Linked DNA regions of Homo sapiens: region 1 is linked to region 2. Evidence: fine-mapped expression QTL. A gene starts in region 2. The other region holds a variant in brackets. All regions are shown on one strand. Distances are from middle to middle. Region 1 holds the start of LINC02976 (long intergenic non-protein coding RNA 2976). Region 2 holds the start of GNMT (glycine N-methyltransferase).

Region 1 (4,379 bases), 22 kb before region 2:
ATGCTGGCCAGGGGGTCTCGAACTCCTGACCTCAGGTGATCAGCCCACCTTGGCCTCTCAAAGTGCTGGGATTACAGGCATGAGCCACTGCACCCAGCCCTTCAAGGTATAAGTAAAAAGGGCAAGTGCAAAATAGTGTGTATGCTATACCACTGCTTGTGTAAAAAGGCGGGGGGAGGATATATTTAGATATTGGTATTTGTATGAGTTATCTCTGGGAAAATAGAGGAAATGGATAGTATGTTTTCTCTGGGGATAAGACCTAGGCAGCTAGCAGAGATAGTTTTTACAGAATAAAGGGTCTACCTGCCTCAGCTATGCCTTTTTCCCACTGAGGAAAGACACAACCCAGGAAGAACGGAACAGCAGGTCTGGATGATATGGGAGTGTTTCCAGCCATAGTGAGGGGAAAGAGCTAAGACAAACCTATTTCCTGGAAAAGAAGCATAAAGCCAAAGGGCCTGAGGGCAGCCGCAGGTCTTTTTGAAGCGATGAGGTGTGCAGAGGCAGATCAGGGGGTATATGTGCAGGGGTTGTGGGAAGCAGGCCTAAAAGAGGGAAGAGGAAGGTCAGGTCAAGGATGAGGCCAGGTGCGGTGGCTCACGCCTGTAATCTCAGCACTTTGGGAGGCTGAGGTGAGTGGAAAACTTGATGCTAGGAGTTCGAGACCAGCCTGACCAACATGACAAAACCCCAACTCTACAAAAATTAGCCGGGTATGGTGGCACGCCTTTGTAGTCCCAGCTGCTTGGGAGGCTGAAGCAGGAAAATCGCTTGAACCTGGGAGGCAGAGGTTGCAGTGAGCTGAGACGCTCCAACCTGGGCGACAGAGTGAGACTCCTTCTCAAAAAAAAAAGGATGAGGATCCTTAGAGGGCGTTGAGCATTGGTCTTATAGCTGGGTTCTTAGCCACCACTGGGAGACGAGGGTGGGAGGGAGAGAAGGGAGCTCCGCCTGCCATATCTGGTCGCTTCTTCCAGGGCATGTCAGAGACCTTTGAGACATTACACAACCTGGTACACAAAGGGGTCAAGGTGGTGATGGACATCCCCTATGAGCTGTGGAACGAGACTTCTGCAGAGGTGGCTGACCTCAAGAAGCAGGTACAGGCCCTTCAGCCCTTGGAAGGGTTGCTGTGCCCAGTGAGGGGCTGGTGGGGATTGGGTCTGCTCTGAGGAAGTCCACCCAGGCCGGGGTGGCTTTGGTCAGGTCATTTCACCTCTCTGGCCTCAGTTTCCTTAGGTGAACCGCTGCCACTGCCTACCTTGCAGTGGGTTGCGAGGCTTAGCTGAGCTCCTCTAGGAGCGAGTCAGGTGCTGGGGCTTTGCCAATATGAGGTATTATGATTAACAGTGTGATGTGCTGGTGGAAGAGTTTGAGGAGGTGATCGAGGACTGGTACAGGAACCACCAGGAGGAAGACCTGACTGAATTCCTCTGCGCCAACCACGTGCTGAAGGGAAAAGACACCAGTGAGTTTGGGGAAGCAAGGGCAGGCTGGCTCTGGATGATTTGTTTGCTCTCCCTTGGGGGAGGTGGGTAGGAGGAGAAACAGAGGGCACCAGAGGGCATTGTAGGATCTCTGCCCTTGAAAGGCTTGATTGGCAAGACATGGTGAAGTAAGAGTCACTGAAACCAGGTGCAGAATGATGGGCAGACAAGTCAGATGCCCCCAGAGGGGCCTGGTGGCCACAGCGAGAGGCAGGAGGCAGGGAGGCTGATGTCAAGCACAGTCCCAGTTGCTACTCCCACGGCTCCCTGCTCAGTGCTCCTTGCCCAGCACCCCAGCCCTGAGGCACTTCTGTTGAGGGTCTCTCTCCTCCACACCCTAGGTTGCCTGGCAGAGCAGTGGTCCGGCAAGAAGGGAGACACAGCTGCCCTGGGAGGGAAGAAGTCCAAGAAGAAGAGCA[G/T]CAGGGCCAAGGCAGCAGGCGGCAGGAGTAGCAGCAGCAAACAAAGGAAGGAGCTGGGTGGCCTTGAGGGAGACCCCAGCCCCGAGGAGGATGAGGGCATCCAGAAGGCATCCCCTCTCACACACAGCCCCCCTGATGAGCTCTGAGCCCACCCAGCATCCTCTGTCCTGAGACCCCTGATTTTGAAGCTGAGGAGTCAGGGGCATGGCTCTGGCAGGCCGGGATGGCCCCGCAGCCTTCAGCCCCTCCTTGCCTTGGCTGTGCCCTCTTCTGCCAAGGAAAGACACAAGCCCCAGGAAGAACTCAGAGCCGTCATGGGTAGCCCACGCCGTCCTTTCCCCTCCCCAAGTGTTTCTCTCCTGACCCAGGGTTCAGGCAGGCCTTGTGGTTTCAGGACTGCAAGGACTCCAGTGTGAACTCAGGAGGGGCAGGTGTCAGAACTGGGCACCAGGACTGGAGCCCCCTCCGGAGACCAAACTCACCATCCCTCAGTCCTCCCCAACAGGGTACTAGGACTGCAGCCCCCTGTAGCTCCTCTCTGCTTACCCCTCCTGTGGACACCTTGCACTCTGCCTGGCCCTTCCCAGAGCCCAAAGAGTAAAAATGTTCTGGTTCTGATTTCTGAGTCCTCTGCAGCCCTCAGAGGTGCCCTGGAGCCTCTTGTTCTTTCCTGCCCCTCGCCTTCCAGCCCGTGGGGCTGAGGAGGGGAAGGCTAAAACCCACCCACTCTCGGGAGCAGCAAGTGCTGGGAAGGCCCAGGGTTGTCTTGGGGTGAGGGGAGGCATGGGCATAGGATGAGGCCCAGGGCAGTGCACTGACCTTACGCTGCTCCCTCGTGTCCTGGACACCTGGCTGCCGTTCCCTCCCTCCCTCTCTCCTGCTGCTCCTCTTCCCAAGGCCTCCCATTTGTTGTGTAAAATGCAGTGTTTACCTGGCCAGCTCCCGCCCCTGTTCCTACTTCCACCTGGCCTTGACTGTTGGTCCTGAACCTTGTTTTCTGATGACCACACTTGATCACTCTGAGGTTCCTAGCTGTTGTACCTGGAGTGCAGTTGGGAGGACACCCGGTTCCCAACACCATCTGGTCACACCATGTTCCTCAGGGCCAAGGGAGGAGCAGAGAGGCTGGCCTCTAGGGAGAAGGGGTGGGGAAGCTCAGGCACCTCCCAGTTTGTCCTGAAGGCAGGGATCGGGGCAATTGGTACAGTAGTGATGACAATTGTATGTATTCAAATTGTATGCTTTAACTTTTACTATTACCACACTCTTGTGAGGTGTGCTGTTAACCTCATTGTGTAGAGGAGAAAACAGGCTAGAGTCAAGTGATATGCTTGGAGTCAGGTGACCTTGGAGTCAAGGTCCTGCTGTTAAGGAGTGGTATAGCTGGGACGCAGACACTGGCGTTCAGATTACAAATCCATGGTACTTCCACTCTCCACAGCTGCCAGGGCCTCTTCCCCCAACCCCTGGCACTGACAGTGTGAGTTGTATCGAACTGGTTTAGTTTCTTGGCCTTAACCTGTCACCACCACCAAGATTCTTTTTGTTTTGTTTTGTTTTGTTTTGTTTTTTTGAGGCGGAATCTCACTCTGTTGCCCAGGCTGGAGTGCAGTGGTGTGATCTTGGCTCACTGCATCGTCTGCCTCCCGGGTTCAAGCAATTCTCTGCCTTAGCCTCCCGAGTAGCTGGGATTACAGGCACCTGCCACCACGCCCAGCTAATTTTTTTGTATTTGTAGTAGAGACGGGGTTTCACCATCTTGGCCAGGATAGTTTTGAACTCCTGACCTCATGATCCATCTGCCTCGGCTTCCCAAAGTGTTGGGATTACAGGTGGGAGCCACTGCGCCTGGCCTAACCACCACCAAGATTCCTAAAAGGCGAATAGGAAGCAGCTGTGGCTTATTGGAAGGAAAGAATGGCAGCAAGTCCTGGGGGAGCTGTGCCCGCACCAGATCTCCCGTGAGCACCCACACTGCAACTCTACCTCACACTTCCAGGCTAGGCCCAGTGGGTAGGAGGGATACACTGCTGAAGCCTCCCTGCGTCCATTGCAGCGGCTCTGGGGGCTGAACTGGGAGTGAGGGGCCCCCTCATAGCCTGGTCCCAGCCTCTCCCCCTCTACCAGGTTAGGGCAGCCAAGGCCATAGAGAGTGGAACAGAATGGAATCTGTCTCTCCTTAAGCTGTTGAGGATGACGCCAGGTCCTGGGAAAATGATACTGTCTTGGTCCAGCCTCCACCTCTGCATCTCCAGGACTGATGTTCCCCCTGTTAAAGGAGCTGGTGAGCAGTGAGATTACAGTCTAGATGCAGGTCTTGTCCTGGACTTTGTTCTGAGCATAGAAAATGGCTGGGGGTGAGGTGGAGGGGCTGGTACCCAGGGCAGGGATGTGTTTCCTGCCCCCTGAACTGTCTAGGATTTGGTGGCCACCCTCTGATTCCCCCATTCTATCACTAACAGCACTTCAA
Region 2 (4,379 bases):
GCAACCTCTGCCACCCGGGTTCAAGCGATTCTCCTGGCTTAGCCTCCCAAGTAGCTGGGATTACAGGCACGTGCCACCATGCCTGGCTAATTTTTGTATTTTTAGTAGAGACAGGGTTTTAGCATCTTGGCCAGGCTGATCTTGAACTCCTGACCACGTGATCCACCTGTCTTGGCTTCCTAAAGTGCTGGACAGTTTGATTTTTAAAGGCTAAACCTCCCCAGGCTCCAAGGAGCACTGGGGCCAAACAGTACCAAAGGAGAGCATCACCCGTTAACCAGGCCCCCTGCTTAGAAGAGTAGCACAGACCGGGCGCTGTGGCTCACACCTATAATCCCAGCACTTTGGGAGGCCGACGCCAGTGGATCACGAGGTCAGGAGTTTGAGACCAGCCTGACCAACATGGTGAAACCCTGCCTCTTCTAAAAATACAAAAATTAGCCGGGCGTGGTGGTGAGCGCCTGTAATACCAGCTACTCAGGAGGCTGAGGCAGGAGAATTGCTTGAATCTGGGAGGCGGAGATTGCAGTGAGCTGAGATTGCACCACGGCACTCCAGCCTGGCGACAGAGCGAGACTGTGTCTCAAAACAAAAACAAAAACAAAAAAAAACCCTGCAGTTGCTTCCATGTTTAGGCGCTGCCCACCAAGGGTCCCAAGTTGGAAAGGAAGGAGGAGAGAGGCAGAGAGAGAGAGAGAGAGAGAGAGAGAGAGAGAAGCGCGAGAGCGGCCCTGTAATTGAGCAGAAAGGAAAGGGAGAAAAATGAATCCCAAACTTTGGGCTTACCTCTTTCTGCTGGCTGGCTCGCCAAAATATGTTAACGGTAGAGGATGTCCAGGTTCTTGGCATCTTGAACAAACAATTGGACAAAATGCACAAACAAAGCAAGAAAGGAATGAAGGATTTTATTGAAAATGAAAGTACACTCCACAGTGTGGGAGCGAGCATGAGCATAGGGGCTCAAAGGCCCTGTTACATTTTGTGAGTTTAAATACCCTCTACTTGGGGTACACCCTATGTAAATGAAGAGGATGAAGTAAAGTTACAGTTACAAAGTTATTAATGGCGGGCATACGCCCTATGGAGAGGATATTTCCCGTTATAACTGAAGTGTGAATTGGCCTTATGTTCCCTGTCTCTAGACCCTATTCTCCTGCTTCCTGTGAAAGCAGAGGGTTTTGTTTGTTTTTTGCTTTTTGTTTTTTGAGACGGAGTCTTGCTCTGTTGCCCAGGCTGGAGTGCAGTGGTGCACTCGGCTCACTGCAACTTCCGCCTTCCCGGGTTCAAGCGATTCTCCTGGCTCAGCCTCCGGAGTAGCTAGGACTACAGGCGCGTGTCACCATGTCCCAGCTAATCTTTCTTTATTTTTAGTAGAGACGTGTTAGCCAGGTTTCACCGTGTTACCGTGTTACCGTATTCCAGCCGGGCTCCGCCCCTGGATTCGGTGGACAGACCAGCTTTACCTCCAGAGACTCCCCCTGTCTTCCCTGCACCGGCTGACTATACCTACACACTTCGGTGGCACAATCTTTGTTTAGATATGCTGATGCCTTCCTTCGCTGGGAACGGTCCAGTCCTGCCCGCCTGGCGCTCAGCTCTGCGGATCTCAGGGGATGGAGTGGCAATCTCATTGCTCCCGCCTCTCCTGACCCCTCTCGCCTTCTCCTCGAGACCCGGGTTAAGTGGGCAGAGGGCTCCGAGGGTCCTCTCCCGCCGTGGGATTGCACAGAGGGCTGGGTCCGCAGGCTGGCTAAAAGGACCTAGCCCAGGATTGCGAGGCAGCGCCCTCCCTGCAGCTGGACAGACTCGGGCGCCCGGCCCAAAGCCCGGCAGGGGCGTGTCCGCGCGCTCACCTGCTATTGGCCAGGTGGGGCTGTCGGCTGCCAGCAGTGCTTATGCTTTAAGTGCGGAGCGGGTGGCTGCGGAGCCAGGCGCGGCGCAGGATGGTGGACAGCGTGTACCGGACCCGCTCCCTGGGGGTGGCGGCCGAAGGGCTCCCGGACCAGTACGCGGACGGGGAGGCGGCGCGCGTGTGGCAGCTGTATATCGGAGACACCCGCAGCCGCACCGCCGAGTACAAGGCATGGCTGCTTGGGCTGCTGCGCCAGCACGGCTGCCAGCGGGTGCTCGACGTAGCCTGTGGCACTGGGTGAGCCCAGGCCGGGGCCGGGGGCGTTGCATGAGATCGGGGTCTGTCTCAGCCTGTACTGCGCGGCCGCAGAACCACAGGGCCGGGCACGTCAGGGCGGCCTTTGCCAATCCTGGAACGGGTGGGACACCAGGGCCAGGAGCAGGTACCTGCCCGGCAGAACAGGCACTGCGAGTGCCCCGTGAGGCTAGGGGTCCAGGTAGCGGTTCGCAGGGAGAGGCCCCGGAGAAGGGAGACTGAGTGTGAGTGAGGGTGTGGGCAGAAAAAGTGAGCGTCCCTGAGGCTTTGGAGCCAGAGCCACGGACAGATTGCAAATATTCCTCCTGTGATGGCCTTGGGCAGTGTTAACAGTTAACATTGCTCAACATTTGCACCTGCCAAGCCCAGTGCCAGGAGCTTTTGATACATCACTTTTTCAAACCCTCACAAAGCCCCATGAAGTTAAGCAGTGATATTCTCTCATTTACTACTGGGGAAGTAAGGCCTCAGCAAAGTAAAATTCCCTCATACATCATCCAGTGAAAAGGAGCTAACAGGCCCGGGTTGGTTAAGATCTGTCCTGTGCTCTATTTTTCTCTTTTTTTTTTTTTTTTTTTTTGAGATGAAGTCGTGCTCTGTCGCCCAGGCTGGAGTGCAGTGGCTCCATCTCGGCTCACTGCAAGCTCCGCCTCCTGAGTTCATGCCATTCTCCTGCCTCAGCCTCCCGAGTAGCTGGGACTACAGGCGCCTGCCACCACGCCCAGCTAATATTTTGTATTTTTAGTAGAGACGGGGTTTCGCCGTGTTAGCCAGGATGGTCTCGATCTCCTGACCTTGTGATCTGCCCACCTCGGCCTCCCAAAGTGCTGGGATTACAGGCATGAGCCACCGCGCCCGGCTTTGTCCTGTGCTCTAAACCACCATGTTCTACTGCCTTTTGTGCACACGTATTTTAACTTCAAGGAGCCTCAGCTTGTCTGTCTCTCAAATGGGAATGACACTATTTACCTCTCAGGATTGCCATGAGAATTAATGCATATTTGTAGAGTGCCTGGCTCTGAAGAGGTGCTTTTAAAAAAAAGTTGCCTTGTGGTGACAGGAAACAGATTTGTGAGGTCAGTGGAGAGGGCCTGGGGAGAGGAGGCAGAGGAACGGACTCTGAGAAGTAGAGACAAAAGTGTCCAGTGCAGGGTCTCCTCCTGGCCCTCCCAGGCTCCCCTAACTGCCTCTCTCTGCCTCTCCTCGCTGGCCGTACTCAGGGTGGACTCCATTATGCTGGTGGAAGAGGGCTTCAGTGTGACGAGTGTGGATGCCAGTGACAAGATGCTGAAGTATGCACTTAAGGAGCGCTGGAACCGGCGGCACGAGCCCGCCTTCGACAAGTGGGGTATGCAGGTCTAGCCAGGCTCCCCCAGCCCAGTCACCAGGAACACTGTTCATTCTGCCTGGGGCTCCTTTAAGTGGGGGCGGGGGTGGAGTGTTGTGTTTTCCTCGGGGAGACAGAAAAATTACTGTCATTTCTCTGAAAAGCAAGTCTTAAGCTCCAGAATGAGACACCGGGTGTGAAGAGCTGGTTTTAACTGTGTTTGTGGCATCTTGTCCCTCCCCTCAAAGAAAAACCCATAAGCACAGAGCCCTCCTTCCCAACCAGGGTTCCTTCTCCCTTGATCCCTCTTTTCTCCTCCCCCTAACTGAACGGGGAGCTTGTGTGTCTTAAGAAGAAACCCAGGCAGGACTGCACTTGGTGGAGGTGGCTGCTACTGGTACCATCGTGCCTCCCTGATTCCTCTTTCTCTTCCTGACCCCTAGTCATCGAAGAAGCCAACTGGATGACTCTGGACAAAGATGTGCCCCAGTCAGCAGAGGGTGGCTTTGATGCTGTCATCTGCCTTGGAAACAGTTTCGCTCACTTGCCAGACTGCAAAGGTAAGAGAGGGTGTGGCCTTGGGCATGGCCCCCGCCTTGAGGCCCCCTTCCACAGACATCTGGCACCTGCTCTCCTGCCAAAGCAGACTCTCTGCCTTGGCTCTGGCACCCCTGGGGAGGGGAGAGATGGGAGGGAGACTGGTGCTGGGGGCCCTGAGCAGATGGAGTCTTTCTGCCCGTGCCTGGAGCTCAGGGGACCAGAGTGAGCACCGGCTGGCGCTGAAAAACATTGCGAGCATGGTGCGGGCAGGGGGCCTACTGGTCATTGATCATCGCAACTACGACCACATCCTCAGTACAGGCTGTGCACCCCCAGGGAAGAACA

What was found. PIP is the estimated chance that this variant, and not a neighbour inherited with it, causes the effect.
Region 1: its variant is the best candidate, but not a certain one, in a credible set for the expression of GNMT in blood mononuclear cells (TOPMed, PIP 0.59).

What each region holds. Positions count from the first base shown.
Region 1 is chr6:42,936,737-42,941,115 of GRCh38, forward strand. CNPY3 (canopy FGF signaling regulator 3) reads left to right here. Exons shown (of 6, transcript NM_006586.5): 4 at 981-1,103; 5 at 1,354-1,471; 6 at 1,832-2,558. The coding sequence ends at 2,055. All of the region lies in intron 1 of CNPY3-GNMT (CNPY3-GNMT readthrough), which reads left to right. LINC02976 (long intergenic non-protein coding RNA 2976) reads left to right here and starts at 3,757. Exons shown (of 5, transcript NR_186646.1): 1 at 3,757-3,870; 2 at 4,037-4,193. RefSeq lists an enhancer at 1,868-2,370. The variant G/T (reference allele first, on the strand shown) is at 1,910.
Region 2 is chr6:42,958,825-42,963,203 of GRCh38, forward strand. GNMT (glycine N-methyltransferase) reads left to right here and starts at 1,930. Exons shown (of 6, transcript NM_018960.6): 1 at 1,930-2,149; 2 at 3,388-3,515; 3 at 3,938-4,054; 4 at 4,248-4,379. The coding sequence starts at 1,944. CNPY3-GNMT (CNPY3-GNMT readthrough) reads left to right here. Exons shown (of 5, transcript NR_134892.2): 2 at 3,388-3,515; 3 at 3,938-4,054. RefSeq lists enhancers at 1,649-2,150, 2,329-2,378.